Homo sapiens: one gene and its partner. The protein of the gene in region 1 interacts with the protein of each later gene in a biochemical or structural test. Each region holds a gene or a part of one and is shown on either strand. Other genes may lie near its edges.

Region 1 (8,057 bases):
TGGCTGTGGTGTCAGTGACCCACATACAATTTGGAGCTATATGCCTGGGTGCTGGGAGAAATGCAGAATTTATACAATTTGAAATATGAAGACACTAGCAAAGCTACAAGATCAACAGAAACTACTAAAAACCAGAGAAAGAAATGCTAATTTCATGTTTTCACTTGCTGCTCACTCTCTTCATCAACAAACTTTTTTATTAAGTAGTTAGCATGTGCCTTAGTTATTAAAGTAAGATCATTAGCAAAGGAAAGTTAGGCTATAAAGTATAAATCTAAATTTAGAATATAACCCTACAGTGATCAAAGTTAGCTAATAAGAGAGAAGGCAATTTGAAAATTTTAGTAGTGTTTTATAAATTGGTTGCAAGCCCCTGTTTAAACAGAGTCAAATTTCAGTAGCCCATGACAATGATGAACAACGTGGAAAATTTTGTATCATAAGTAAATCAAAGCAGGTGCTTCAACAGTTCAACTTATGTACATCTGTATCATACCTATGCATGTGCATGATACACACACACACACACACACACACACACACACACACACACGAAACCAGAACTGCCAAAAAGATGGGAAGGGAATGTATCTCACTTATGAGTATGTTATAGAAGAAAGATCTTCCACTTTTCCGGTGTAGAGCTCTGGGTTCAAATCCCAGCTCTGCCCCCTTCAAAGCAGTGTGACCCTTGGGCAAGTCACTTACCCTCTCTGAACCTCAGTTTCCTTATTTCTACAATGGGTGGGAGGTGAGGGTGTAGAGCACATTGCCAGCTTTGCGTGGTTCTTGTGAGTTACCACCTGGAATAAGCTGTCACGAGTGAAAGTGGAAAGTAACTTGGCCAGGTGCAGTGGGTCACACCTGTAATCCCAATACTTTGGAGGCCAAGGTGGGCGGATCACCTGAGGGCAGGAGTTCGAGACCAGCCTGGCCAACATGGCAAAACCCCGTCTCTACCAAAAATACAAAAAAATATTAGCCAGGCATGGTGCTGCCCACCTGTAATCCCAGCTACTCAGGAGGCTGAGGCAGGAGAATCGCTTGAACCTGGGAGGTGGAGGTTGTGGTGAGCCAAGATCAGGCCACTGCACTCTAGCCTGGAGGACATAGTGAGACTCCATCTTAAAAAAACAAGAAAGTAACTTGAACTTTCTTCTTTCCCTTAATTTTCTCTGCCCATCTCCCTCAGGCAGAAGCAATCAAGAAGCAGAATAGCTAAGAGGTAAAAATGGAAGGAAAAATAGTAGGCAAAAGAGACTGAAATGATGCACAAACTGGAGCTGGATGCCGCCTTTCTCTCCTCTGCCCTTTACCTCTGTCAGGAAGGTATGTGATGCAAATTTGAAGATTGTGGTTACTTTAAAAAATATATTTTTGGGTAAGCATGGGCACAAATATATATACATATGTGTGTATATATGTATATATGTGTGTATATACATATATATATATACACACATATATATATTGGTCCAGTGCTGTGGCACAAGCCTGTAATCCCAGCTACTTGGGAGGCTGAGGCAGGAGGATCACTTGAGTCCAGGAGTTCAAGTTTGAGGCCAGCCTGGAAAACAGAGTGAGTCTCTCTCTCTATTTATGTGTATATATGTATATGTGCATATGATAATCTTGTAATATGCTTTTAGTGGTCATTTTCCTTTATGCTAAACCATAAGTTGTTTAGTGACTCAAAGGAATCCCTTAGTAACAAACTTATTGGGATGGTTTGTATCTCATGAGAACATAGACACTGCACTGTGTATGTCATTCAGTAAGTGGCTAAAGTGCTAGGGCACAGTTACTATTAAACTGCCCTAAGAGAAAACATTTTTAAAAATAGAAGCATAGGGGAAAAAAGCCCACAGGGCTCTAATATAACTTCCTCTGTATTTGTGCTTTTTAGGAAGTTGTTCTAAGCCTCCTTTGAACCCTTATTAACTCTTATTAAGAAATAACAGTTTTATGATGGGTTGGCCTTCTCATCTGCGAGCCCTAATTTTGCAGGTTCACAGAAAATGCTACATCACAAAATCCTTTTTTAAAAAACTCTTCCCAGGGTCAAACTCCACAGCCAATCAAAATATTCCACCTTTTAACTTGAGGGAAATCGCTAAAGGAAAGGATAGCTTTAACTAGTGTGTCTTTTGGATTGGGGGACTCAAAGAGAGGTCTCCCCAAGTTCCACAAGACTTCGGACCACAGAAAACCCACCACCCATGCGTGTTTTTGATTCCTTGAGGACACATGCTGAGGTGGTTGGGAACGAAGTTTCACATCTACCTAAAAGATCATGACCAGGGATAGAGAGACGACCAAATTTGGGAGAGCAGTTACGGTGCAGTTACGGAGGCGGAAGGACGCTCTCAGTACCCCGTTTCCACACTTTCATTCTTAAAGGCATGCAACCCCTTTCTAAATAAATGTAGCTCCCCAGGTTTCCACTACCTGAAGAGAAACCCTCACAGCACACTCTGGAAATGTTTTACAATTCGTTTTAAATGCGTATTATTTCTAACTAAATCATTGAGGGACTCCTATGTATTTATTTATTTATTTATTTTGAACATTTTCAAACGGATGGGGAAGTTTTGCTTCCATGTTTCCATTTTTTTCCCCCCAAATTGGCATTAGGCACCAAAATCAGTTGAGGAACGAAGCATTCCTTAGCTAGAATTTAAAACTTAACAAGGGACTCTTCCCGAGCTTGGTAAAGAGAATACCATTTTAAAATTGCACTGTAGGATTTTTTTACCTTCAGACAAGAACACACCTAAAAGGAAAAAGGCCCTCCCCTCCTCCCGAAGCACAAAAACACAGCATATCCCAAGCAGCCCGTTTCCTACCCAGCCAATACAATAACGCTTTGTAAACTGAGAGCAGCGCCCGGTATAGAAGCTAAGTATAAACAGCTGAGAAGGATTAGGCGGTAGCGCTCTTCTCATTTACATGAAAATCCTCTAAGCATCGTTTTCCTCGCTGGCTGCGGGCGCATAAGGAACTCTTTTATGCCATAGCCACGCATACATTTCCATCCTTTGTCTTTACTTACCAGTCGAGGCTGTGGGCATGTGTGCTCTATTTCCTCCATGGTTTCTGAGGGAGGCTCATTGGAAAGGGATTTTGGGATACCTGTTTCTGACTCAGCATCAGTGGTAACTACTGGCATGGCCAGTGAATGCTCCCTCTAGCTCTACACCCTCAGAGAGTCTCCTCCCAGGCAGAGAATGTTTTCTTTGTCACGTATTTTTCTCCCCTCTACCCTCCACCCATCCCCCCGCTTCTTCTCCCCTTCTTTCTGTCTTCCCTAGGGGAAGTAAAGAGGTTACCCCCCGCCCCTCTCTCTCTCTCTCTCTCCCAGAAGCCAAGAGGCAAGGCCTCAGTTTATCACTATAACAACCAGACGACACTGAAGCGGCTGGTGCGGGATACAGTATCTCATTTGCATAGAGCGCGCTGGTTGGCTACTGTCATCATAGTACCACTCCGCCGGGAAGCGGCCGGGCCCCATTGGCTAGCCCTCCGTACCCACGGGCCCGAACTTGCTGCTTTTGTTTCTTCTGTTTAATTCAGTTGCAAAGGTCTCCGTCCTCTCTGGGCACGGGACCCGGGCTGCGCCACCCAGATAACATAAAACCGCTTCCTGAGGGGCCTAGGACGCCTTGAGAAACAACATAGCAGACCTCCACTAATAAAGGACCATGTCCCTGGGATGAGCTAGTGCATGATGTGCTGTAGTCAGGATATTTGCCAAATAGGAGTCACCCTGAAGACAAAGCCACTTTTGAGCCCAAATTCATTGTGCTAATTGCCAGTGGAGGGCCCCTCCGGGCATTCACTATGGGCACCTGAGTGTTCGACCCCTGGACTTCATGCAACGTGAACCCTGGCAGATCCCCTCGTGGCCTGGTGTAGCCCTGGAGCCCTCCCCTGGGGCTGCCCTAGGGGGAACTTTGAAGGAGGTAGATTGTCTTTAACAGCCTGCCTCCTACTCCTGGCTGCCCTTTCGCAGTTGCTTCCTCTGTCAGCCACTCTTCCCCTTCCCCAGCTATTCAAAGTTTCCTCAAGAAGTCTTGCTGTTGTGTGCCTTTCAATACACTGTTCCATGCACTGCTCTATTTTCTCTTGGTTCCTACTTTACCAGTCGTGGGTCCCATTTCCGAAGTACCCTGCTCTCAGCCAAATGCTCATGGCAATCAGAGATGGAATGTTAACGATCAGGTGCTTTAATGTCTACATTATCTAGGGACATTCACATTTTAAGAGGAGCATTCTGAAGACACACATCCAAAGAACTTACCAAGGTATTCATTGTGAATTGTCACTTTTAATATTAATAAAAAATCATGATGATCCCTGGCATTTATTAAGCACAAGCACGGTGCTAAGTACTTTACCTAGTTCTTGTTTAATCTTTGTGAGAACCCAAAGAGGTAGATCCTATTGTTATCCTCATTTTACAGGTATTCACATTCACAAAATTCTAAAATAATGCAGCTGGGATTTGAAGGAATTTTTTTTTTTTTTTTTTTTTTTTTTGCGAAGGGCGAGGTGGTGGGGGCGGGCGCGTAGGGACCAGGGATGCAGCAGGTGTAGTAAGAAAAGGATCTAGGCAGGAGTCCTCTTAGGACAAGTCCCTGGGCTTCTACATCTTTCATTTTTATCTACAGTAGTGGTTTTCATTCAAGTGTGGTCTGGGACCAGCAGCACCAACATCAGCATCACCAGGGAACTTGTTAGAAATGCGAATTATTGGCCCCCTGCCAGACCCCGGACCTGATTCAGTAAGTCTGGGGTGGGGTCAGAATTTGCTTTTCTAGAGAGTTTCTGGGTGTTGTTAATGCTGCAGGTCTGGGAACTATACTTTGAGAATCAGTAGCCCAAAGGATGGGATAAAAATACCGGGCTTGCCTCCATCACAGAAAGGAGATCAAATGAGATATCATGTCATTGCACTTTTTGAATTAGAACGTGCTATGCTAATATAAGGGGACATTATTTTTATTACTCCTCAATAAGCAAAGAGGGCTAGTCCTAAAAGAAGAAGAAAATGGATTCTGTAGCAGAGAATTACAGTTTGACAGTTTTAGATGCTGGCCCTTTAAGTCAGAATAACATCACTTAAGAGTATTATGACCTATACAGGACAGAACTCCAGTGTTGTGAGAATTCCAGTGATGCTTCCTACCCTATTTGCCCTCCTGGAAGCACAAAACACTTCCAGCAGCAGGTTTAACTCTACCAGCTCATCACCTGGAAGAGCCAAGCCCTGTGTTACATTTAGGAGCCCTTTTCCTACGTGTACTGGGTGACGTGCAAATGACATGGTTATTCTAATCTCAATATATGTATTTTTGCCTTAGAGCAGTGGTTCTCAAAGTGTACTTCTCCAAGAAGTGCAGCAGCAGCCCTGGTCACTTGTCAGAAATTCTGGATCCCCACCCCAGACCTACTGAATCAGAAATTCTGGCTTCCCACTCCAGACCTACTGAATCAAAACCTCCTGGTTTGGGAGGCATTCTGACCCACGCTAAAGTTTACAAACCACTACCTTAGAGTCACTGTTCACATTGGAAAGCACCTAAACCCCACTGTATTCTTGGCCACTGAGCCACCCCTTGGTTCCTAATTGGTCACCTAATTCTCTCTCCAGAATGAGAGGTTCACCTGTTCACCTGCTCATTTTAAAGAGTTCTGATGTCTAGCTGAGTCCTTGTGAACTCTTGTCCAAGAGCCTAGGCCATTCCTTTAGACTCCCAATATCTTCTGTCTCCCTTCCTCACCTTCTTCTCCTCCTAATCCTCCCCTGTCCCATTGAACCAAGATACTGCCTTTGCCTAGGATATCTTCATTGTATTACCCACATCAAATCCTTAGCTTTCAGTGCTACTTTGTGCTAAGTCCGTCACACCTGACACTTACTCATCCCAAGTCCTTGAACTTTGAAATTTAGACTTCTGTCTAACTGCCCTGAGGGTCAGCTCTATAACTAATTCCATTCCCACTAATTCTGCTCCAGCCTAGTCCTGGCTTCTTCCTGCTCCTCTCCCCACAGTCCTGTGATTGAATCTCAGCATGTCTTGCAGTCTTAATGGCAGAAATAGGCTCTTTCAGGCACCACTCTGAGAGGAGTCCTTAACAGATCCACCCACTTTGGAGACCAGTCCTGGCAGCTGCTACAACCTGACTCAGAAACTTCTTGATAATACTTGAGTGAGTTATTTTAACTTGGGGGCATTGTAATGCTATCAAGACAATTAGCTAAGAATGATCAGTTAATTCCACACTACAGAGCTAAATATTCCATAAGGGTTATGAAGGGGATGACTATGAAGGGATAGCAGGAGAGAGTTTATTGGGGTAATGGAATTATTATGTAGCTTTTTTTTTTTTTTTTTTTTTCAGACAGGATCTTACTCTGTTGCCAGGCTGGAATGCAGTGGTGCAATCTCAGCTCACTGCAACCTCTGTCTCCCAGGCTCAAGCGATCCTCCCACCTGAGCCTCCCAAGTATCTGGGACCACAGGTGTATGCCACCACTCCTGTCTAATCTTTCTATATTTTTGGTAGAGACAGGGTTTCACTGTGTTGCCCAGGCTGGTCTGGAACTTCTGGCCTCAAGTGATTCACCTTCCTCGGCCTCCCAAAGTGCTAGGATTATAGGCGTGAGCCACTGTGGCCGTCCAAGAATCATTATGTATCTTGATTATGGTAATGATTTCAAAAAATCCATGCATGTGTTAACTTCATTAGAAATTCCATAGAGGATATTTGTCAGTATATGCTAACAGCCTTTAGAATATTCATACCCTTTGACCTAGGGATTCCACTTGGTAATTTATCCCAAAAGAAATAGAGAAGCACACAAATAATTATGTACAAAGATGCTTAATGCAGAATTATTTATAAAAGGCAAAAAAGATACAACTTACAGCAATAGTAGGAATAGTTCAAATAAAAATAAGTCCATATAATATAGTATTGTACACTCACTAAGAGTCATGTTTTTGAAGAAATTCTAATGTTATGGGCACGTGTTAGCATTATAGTGTTAGAAAAGCAGGCTGCAAAATGTGATTCCAAAAACATGAGCCCAATTATGTCATATGTACATGCACAGAAAAAAGCATTGGAAGGAAATATATCAAGATGCTAAAAGTGAAATCTTTAAACTGTGGGGTTATGGAAGATTTTTGTTTTACTTTAAAACAAATTTTTCTGCCTTTAACAAATATTCAAGGCTGGGCGCGGTGGCTCACGCCTGTAATCCCAGCACTTTGGGAGGCTGAGGTGGGTGGATCATGAGGTCAAGAGATCGAGACCATCCTGGCCAAACAGTGAAACCCCGTCTATTTTAAAAATATAAAAATTAGCTGGGCGTGTTGGCAGGAATCTGTAGTCCCAGCTACTCTGGAGGCTGAGGCAGGAGAATCGCTTGAACCTCGGAGGCGGAGGTTGCAGTGAGCCGAGATCACGCCATTGCACTCCAGCCTGGGCAACAGAGCGAGATGCCATCTCAAAAAAAAAAAAAAAAAAATATATATATATATATATATATATATATATATATATATATATTCAAAAATGAGCATATATTATTCTTTTTTTTTTTGAGACAGGGTCTCACTCTGTTGCCCAGACTGGAGTGCAGTCACGTGATCACAGCAGCCTCGACCTCCCAGACTCAGGTGATCCTCCCACCTCAGCCTTCCAGGTAGCTGGGACTACAGGACACGCAACCACGCCTGGCTAATTTTTTGTAGAGATGGTGTTTCACCATGTTGCCCAGGCTGGTCTTGAACTCCTGAGCTCAAGCGATCTGCCTGCCTCGGCCTCCCAAATTGCTGAGATTACAAGCATGAGGCACCGCACCAACCCTATATTAGTCTTATAATTAGAAAAAAACAATGAACATTACTGTCCTCCCCAAAGTCATCAAGAGCTGGGTATTAGGGTTGGGGTGAGACAGGCATGGTTAGCTCATGAGCAAATAGAAAGATGCACAGACCTCAGTGAGAGGAAACAAAAAAGCTGAAACCGAGGAACAAAGCTGGAGC
Region 2 (8,175 bases), on another chromosome or scaffold:
TTAGAAAAGTGGAAGAGGTCTTGAACTGGAAGCCAAGGGGTGGCTAAAGAGTACCTGATGTCTGGCTGGAGCTCTGCCTCTAATGCCCTGTGTGCCCTTGAGCAATCACTTCCTGATTTTCTTATTTGTGAAAATGAGAGCATTGGATGAAAATGTCCTCTAATATGCCTTCAATTTCTCAAATTTGTAAGTTGATAGGCTGCTCCAGCCTTTCTAATTTTATGAAAGGATCCAAGTATAAGATCCAAGTATAAAATGGGTTATTTAAAATTTTGTTTTATTACCAAAGAAATACACATTCAATATAGAAAATTAAAAAAATATGACAGAACCATGGGAAAATAATTAAAAACACCTATAAAACCCACCACTTCATAATAACCTCAGTCAACATCTTGGTAAATATGATTAATCTTTTTGCAATGCATAAAAAATACATTTTTAATGAGATTTACAATGTTACTTTTTCTAACCTATTACTCTTACATAAGAACTACCTTTTGCTTATCCTCTTACTCTACCTTTTTAATGGCAGTAAAGTATTCTACCATATGATATATAATCCATCAGGCTCACCCTCACTTGTTGGACTGTTAGCTTAACAGTGACTTTTATTAACGGTGGATAATTGCAGCCCCTAAAATTTAAAGCACCTTCTCAGAAAATTTTATTTCAAAGCTTCTCTGAGGGTAAAGTAAAAGTCCTCATGATTCAAAAAGATTTTTCCATTAAACACTTGACCATTTTAACATTTCTAAATTTTTACATGCTGCCTGTCCCTCAAAAATCTAGCTTTTTGAAAAAATTTCAAAAAGGTATAGCATATCTAGAAAAATGTGCATTTGGGTTGATACAGACAGGAAAATCTAGATGCTTCTTTAACATAAGGTAGGCAACTTGTCTCTGCAAAGATCTGGTCTCAGACTCTGGATTTCCCATCTGTGCTCTGCAGTTTGTTTATTCATTCACTGGCTCTATCCACCTTTAAAGTGCTCACGAGAACACATGATATGCCGGTCACTACACTAAGGTTGTATCAACATAGAAGTCAGAGTTTCAGAAGTCAGAGTTTCAGCTTACTGAAAGCTTATAGTGTAACTAAAGTACTTCCAGATACATGCTATATTAGATAAGGGTCAGAGGATAGCACTAGGACACAGAGGAGGGCCCCCAAACCCAGCCTTGGAGGTGGGAGTTGTCAGGTAAGTGCCACAAATGCCCAATTACAGCTGAGGCTGCTTCCTCCCTGTTTTCTATAGAATCCTGTGAAGCAGCTCCAGCTATGTGTGAAGAAGAGGACAGCACTGCCTTGGTGTGTGACAATGGCTCTGGGCTCTGTAAGGCCGGCTTTGCTGGGGACGATGCTCCCAGGGCTGTTTTCCCATCCATTGTGGGACGTCCCAGACATCAGGTGAGGAAAATTATGATTGGAACATAACAGGACACAGATTAGGTTCCTCTGTGTTCATGTTTATCCCCAGATTGTCTATCTCTTTCTGCCCAGAAGTTATGTAACCTTGTTACAAATAGACCTCTAATGATTAAGGTCCAGGAGTAAATGCCAATTTCACATATAATGTAGACAGATTATCTGATGGGCATCTATCAGATACAAAGTCTGCCCCTTTTTCATGTCCTTTTTGTCTAAATATAGTCATTATCATCATCATCATCATCATCAAATCATTTCATCACCATCAGAAATGCTTATACATTATCCTGATGTATACCAAAGCTACTGTTTGGAAAGAAACTAAAATAAAAGTCCAGGTCACTTAACCATACAGGGCTGATGTTAGATGAAAGCAAGCATCGATACCAAATGCAATTTTACATAATATTACCTGTCAACAAAATATATTTGGACAGCCGCATGGTAATTTTACACATTATGTGTAAACAAAGTATTGGTGGCATCACATGGTAAAAACTCAGTAATTTCACCTCAGAAATTCTTCTTCACATCAGAAATGTAGTTTGTGCATTGAGGCTATCTGATTGATGTTTATGCCTCTCTGCTTGGGATATATTCATGAGAATAAATAATAGAAACCTCTCCCAATGAATGCAGTCTGTCTGAATTCATTGATCTTTATGCAGTGGAGATATTCTGCACAAGCCGCTATTTTATGGGTCCATAGTAGCCATGGCTGTTTTGTAGTTCTAAAATAGTCACTGCAGTGCAATTTAAAATCTAGTAACAATAATTTTTTAAGAACTTCACCTTAATGATTTTTTTTAAATGCAGCTGACTAATTTAGGCAAATGTCTTAACAGTTGATTGGTATGAACTTATCCATTAGAAATCAAGCCTCAAGTGGTTATTTGTAGATGCAATGCTTTTGCTTATAATAGTTAGAAAATAATGCTCATATTCTTTTGGGTAGGTGATGACTTTAAAAGTACAGTTTAAAGGATTTATAAGACACAAAATGCCATTTAACAAATATGTAAAATTGTATACATTCTTTCAACAAATAATTATTGAGTGCCACATATGTGCCATGCAATTTGCTATAGTGATGGACAAGACAGACATGATCTCTGCCCTAAAAAAGCTCATCAAGGAACATAGGAGATAAAAATACAAAGTAAAGTTGACTTTCCCCCAACATCTCCTGTTATTTGGAGGCAATTCAGGTCTTTTTCCAATCAACTGCAGAATTTTGCTTAAGAGCATAGTGGCAATGAGACTCAATATGTTTATTGTTGCTGATAATCAGAAGAGGAACTTCCCATCTCAATGACTTAACCTTTTGTGGCTTGGCTGTAATTGATTCACAAGTTTTGGGAGATGCTGACTCATAATGTGTTGAACCTTTTTAGGGGGTGATGGTGGGAATGGGACAAAAAGACAGCTACGTGGGTGACGAAGCACAGAGCAAAAGAGGAATCCTGACCCTGAAGTACCCGATAGAACATGGCATCATCACCAACTGGGACGACATGGAAAAGGTATGGGAGGTTTGCTGCAGCTTGGGCCCTCAGGATGCATAATCCCTGTGTTCTCTGATACAGAACACCACACTACTGCTGGGGAAATAACTGGCTCACATTGCTCAACTGTACTTTTACTTGTTAATGTTCATTCTGGGTTATTACCCATTGAAAAAAAAATCCTTGTAGCCATAAAAAATGATGAGTTCATGTCCTTTGTAGGGACATGGATGAAGCTGGAAACCATCATCCTCAGCAAACTGTCGCAAGGACAAAAAACCAAACACCGCATGTTCTCACTCATAGGTGGGAATTGAACAACGAGAACACATGGACACAGGAAGGGGAACATCACACACCGGGGACTGTTGTGGGGTGGGGGGAGGGGGAGGAATAGCATTAGGAGATATACCTAATGTAAATGACGAGTTAATGGGTGCAGCACACCAACATGGCACATGTATACATATGTAACAAACCTGCACGTTGTGCACATGTACCCTAAAACTTAAAGTATAATAATAATAAAATTTAAAAAAAAAAGAAAAAAAAATCCTAAAATGTTTCTTTAAAAAAAAATCCCTTGCCAGGCATGGTTGCTCACACGTGTAATCCCAACACTTTGGGAGGCCAAGGTGGGAGGATCGCTTGGCCCAGGAGTTTGAGACCAGGCTGGGTAACATAGTAAGATCCTGTCTCTACAAAAAATAAATGAAATTAGCCAGGCATGGTGGCACACACCTCAGTCCCAGCTACTTGAAAGATTGAGGTGGGAGGATCACTTGAGCCTGGGATATGGAGGCTGCAGTGGGCCAAGATCCTACTCCAGCCTAGGTGACAGAGTGAGATCCTATCTCAAAAAAAAGAAGAAAAAAATCCTGCAGGGCACAGTGACTCACACCTGTAATCTCAGCACTGGATCACTTGAGGCCAGGAGTTTGAGACCAGCCTGAGCAACATAGCAAAACCCTGTTTCTACTGAAAAAAAAAAAAAAAAAAAGGTTTAATTAACAGTGTGTGGTGGCATGCAACTGTAGTCCCAGCTACTCAGGAGGCTGAGGTGGTAGCATCATTCGAGCCCAGGAGTTCGAAGCTGCAGTGAGCTGATCATACCATCAGCTGTTGCACTCCAGCCTGGGCAACAGAGCAAGACTCTGTCTCTAAAGAAAAGGAAAAAAATGTCCTTGCCTATTAGGTTTTATTAACTAATTAAAGGATGATAGTTCTGTAGATGAGAAGAGTAGCCCTTTGCCACTGCAGGGAATTAATCATCTGTTGCTCACGTCAACTCTGTTGCCCTCCTAGGACAAGCAGTGCATGAGCAGCAGCTCAGAGAATGAAAACCCTCCTTTCATTTTCATCAGGGGCTGCATGGTTATCCCTCTCAGTGCAATATAGCTAAAGGGGCTTGAAATGCTGGGAGTAGTCTTAAACAGCCCATTCTTGAAAGGTTTTCATTAACTCACTCTAAACATCTAAATTAAAAATGTTTTTGTTTTCACTATAGTAAACAGGAGTGTAACATTGCAGGTTTGGTACATTTCTGAATGCCTCTCCACACACTGAAGCACAAGAGCCACTGAAAAAAGCTATATGATAAATATTTTAAAAATTATTTATCTGTGTTGCATTACATGAGGCCTTATCTCCCAGACACTTAATAAAAGAGCTAATGAGAAGAAGAGCTAAATTCTAAGATTTTGATGTTTGGTCATTAAACATTACAGACACCAGTGATCAGAGAAAAAAACAGAAGAAATAATGAGAAAGTGACATAAAAAATTTTAAATGCAGCAAGATATATCAGAATCACGATATCTGGCCTTTTATTTATCTATCGGCTCACTACTACTACTACGCACACAATTTATCACTTAAAAGAAAAATACATAATGTTGTTAGAATTTATCAGCAGTAATGCTCCAAGCTCTATCTTTCTACAAAAATTTCATATCAGTAGGTTTGCTTGAGGATTCTAGATTTGGTAAGATTGCAGTTTGCACAGAGAAAAAGATATCAATATCAATAGGAAAATATTCTTTTAGAATTTCTCCATGGAGCTGACAACATCTTAGAATGTATCGTCCTAGACAGAGACTATTGGAAGAAAAAACTTTCCTTATTTCTAAAATTTAAATTCAAAGTATCTTCTGGTGGGGACGAAGAGAGAGAGAGGAGAAAGGTTGCTTGCTGTGACTGGCAGGATTTTTTGAGCAGTCTGCTGCTTTCACTCCACTAAAGAAACAAAACTTTCAGAAGTTTCATTTCCCTTCTATAAACCACAAATCCAAAACAAAAGAAAGTGGAATAAGATAGTCTTTAAAGCTAATCTTGGTTTTGCTAATTTGTAAGCTTTCACCAGCAGTTCTTGTTTTGCTCTGTTTTGATTTTGAGTGAATCTCATATTCCTGGCTCTGGTGGAGAATTTTCGTGCTTTTAAAGATTAATTAATTTAGTCCTTTTTGCAATGGTTTGTTCTTTTCGGCATCTAGGAATTAAAGAAAGTGCTCAACCATAAATAAATGTAGTTATGTCCAAAGTACCTTCACATAGACACACTATACACAGGCGTGGGCCTTTTGGAAACACCTGAAGGCCAAATGTCTGACTGTGAGTGGAAGATCCAGAGTGTGCTGATAGAGGAAGCTTTTCTCATCCCTCGAGAGCAAAGAGGGTGATGGAGGCAAGAGTCAGAGAGCCCTGTTCTCTTCTTCATGTACACTGCAAAGGGCAACTTCTCTAGAAGCATTAAAAGTGTCAATTAGGTTTTCAAGTAAGCGTCATTTATTCATATATACATTCATTTGTCTTTTTATTTACAAAATTAAATCATTTTCCCATGAACATTAAAATGGGAAGAGAGAACAAAGAAAATAGAGTTGAATAATAATAACATTGATTCTGGACCAGACACTGGGCTGGACAATAACTCGAGGGTTACCTTATTTATTTACACAAAGACCCGATGAGGTACACACTAATTATTTTCATCTCCCTATTACCAATCATGAGACTGAAGCTGAGAAGGGTTAAAAACTTGCCTAAGCTCACACAACTAAGAAGTGTCCGAGCTGGGCTTTGAACCCAAGGTTTGATCAAGGGTTGTGCCCTTAACTGCCATACCATCCTGCCTCACAGATCTGGGTTAGGGATTCTGCTCAGTCACTTAGTAGATGTGAATCCTTTGGGAAGGTACTTACACACTTTGAGCTTCAGTCTCTGCATCTATAAAACCATGGACACATGCATGAGTACTTGTAGCATTTCCTTTGGTCTTGGTTTCAAGTAGCTTCTGGTCCCTTTTTGGGAAATGCAGGACCTCATGACAGCACATCATTGTGTTTCTCCTCTGTCCCCCAACTCACTAGATCTGGCACCACTCTTTCTACAATGAGCTTCGTGTTGCCCCTGAAGAGCATCCCACCCTGCTCACGGAGGCACCCCTGAACCCCAAGGCCAACCGGGAGAAAATGACTCAAGTAAGTATGCTACCCCAGCACACAACACTGTGGGGTCTGGGGAAACTTCTGTTAGAAGGAGGCTATGCAGCACAGCAGAGAGAAGGCCGGAGCTAGGAGTCCACCAACAGACTAACAGCCTTCAGTGAACTCAGGGATCCCAAAGGACAGGAACAGCTTGAAAGTACTTGCATCCTTCCTGCAGGGACCAGCCCTTTGCCTCCAAAAGCAATAGGAAATTTAAAAGATTTCACTGAGAAGGGGCCACGTTTAAGTTATAATGTCTAAGGAGAAGTCACTTCAAAATGCAGCATCACATACAATAGGAATTTGGGTTCCAGAGTCAGACATATCTAGGTTTGAAAACTGGATCTGCCACTTATCAGTTATGTGACCTTAAAGAACTCCGTTAATTTCTCAGAGCCTCAGTTTCCTTGTCTATAAGTTGGGAGTAATATTAATACTATCATTTTTCCAAGGATTGATGTGAACATTAATGAGGTGAAATGACAGATGTGTATCATGGTTCCTAATAAACATCCAAAATATAGTACTTACTATTGTCATTATTATTACTTGTTTGAAGCTAAAGACCTCACAATAGAATCCCATCCAGCCCACCAGACAGAGCTCTGAGTTTTCTAGTTTGGAAGAGCTATTAAATAACAACGTCTAGTGTCAATTCTATACTTGTTATGGTCAAGTACTGGGCTCAGCATTTTACATTCATTGTCTCTTTAAGTTCTAGCAATGTGAAGCAGGAACTATGATTATATTGACTACATAAATGAAGAAATTGAGGCTCAGATACATTAAGTAATTCTCCCAGGGTCACACAGCTAGAACTGGCAAAGCCTGGGATTGATCCACGATCTTCCAGCATTGAAGAATCATAAATGTAAATAACTGCAAGGCCTTTTCCTCAGAAGAGCTCCTGGTGCTTGCACCAACCCACTAGCACTTGTTCTCTACAGGGGAACATCTGTGGGCCTGGGAATCACTGCACGTCGCAAGAGATGTTGCTTCTGATGAATTATTGTTCCTGTCAGTGGTGTGAAGGCAAAAAAAAAAAAATGGTTGGAAATTATGGCTTGCTAGCAAATGATGTCAGACATTCTGGTTAATAGAGTAGGAAGGGTCTTACAGATGGAGAAATGAAGACCCACGGACATCTCCTGATGCACAAACTTCTCACAAGTGACCTGGAGGGGCTTGGTTCTAATCTTGTCCCTGGACTGCACCAACTGGGGCACTGACATTCTATGTGGTCCTCTATTACCATTGGGCTGGTCCTGTCTTCCAGGAACCAGGGCCTCTCCCACTGCAACCAGAATGGCCTCAGATTCTAGGGTTAGCATTGACCCAGTAACTACATAAAAAAGTGGAATAGATTAAATAGAACCTCAGACAAATCACAGAAATGGGGCTAAACCTAGCCAGCCTGAGCTTCAGATTTAAAAGTTCTCTTTCTTTATACCAGGGAAATCAAAACCTGGATGTTGTCTTCTCTTTTTCTTCTGGCTTTGACATAGTTAACAAGCCCTAGGATGTCTGCACTGGAAAAATGGGAGATCTCATTTAGTCCAAACTCCTCCTCTGTTAAGAGACCTGGAATAAAGCCACTATTAATCAACTATTAGTTTGGTGACTATTAGTCAAAGCCAGGACCAGAGCCAGAAGCTGGACTTTCCTTTCCCCTGGCCAAACCTTGTGTGCACACTGTTTCTTCCCCTCCCCACCCTGTCAGGCCATTGATGTGATGGCTCCCCATTCACACCTT

The links. Proteins that work in one complex are often made in the same cells at the same time.
Region 2: the proteins of PCYT1B (region 1) and ACTA2 are reported together in a solved structure, tested with the Homo sapiens proteins (one study listed by BioGRID).

Annotation. Positions count from the first base shown.
Region 1 is NC_000023.11:24,643,937-24,651,993, forward strand, and holds the start of PCYT1B (choline-phosphate cytidylyltransferase B), read right to left. Parts: upstream 3,412-8,057; 5' UTR 3,170-3,411; coding exon 3,053-3,169; intron 1-3,052.
Region 2 is NC_000010.11:88,942,038-88,950,212, reverse strand, and holds part of ACTA2 (actin, aortic smooth muscle), read left to right. Parts: intron 1-1,259; 5' UTR 1,260-1,282; coding exon 1,283-1,411; intron 1,412-2,826; coding exon 2,827-2,955; intron 2,956-6,305; coding exon 6,306-6,416; intron 6,417-8,175. UniProt on the Homo sapiens protein: Actins are highly conserved proteins that are involved in various types of cell motility and are ubiquitously expressed in all eukaryotic cells.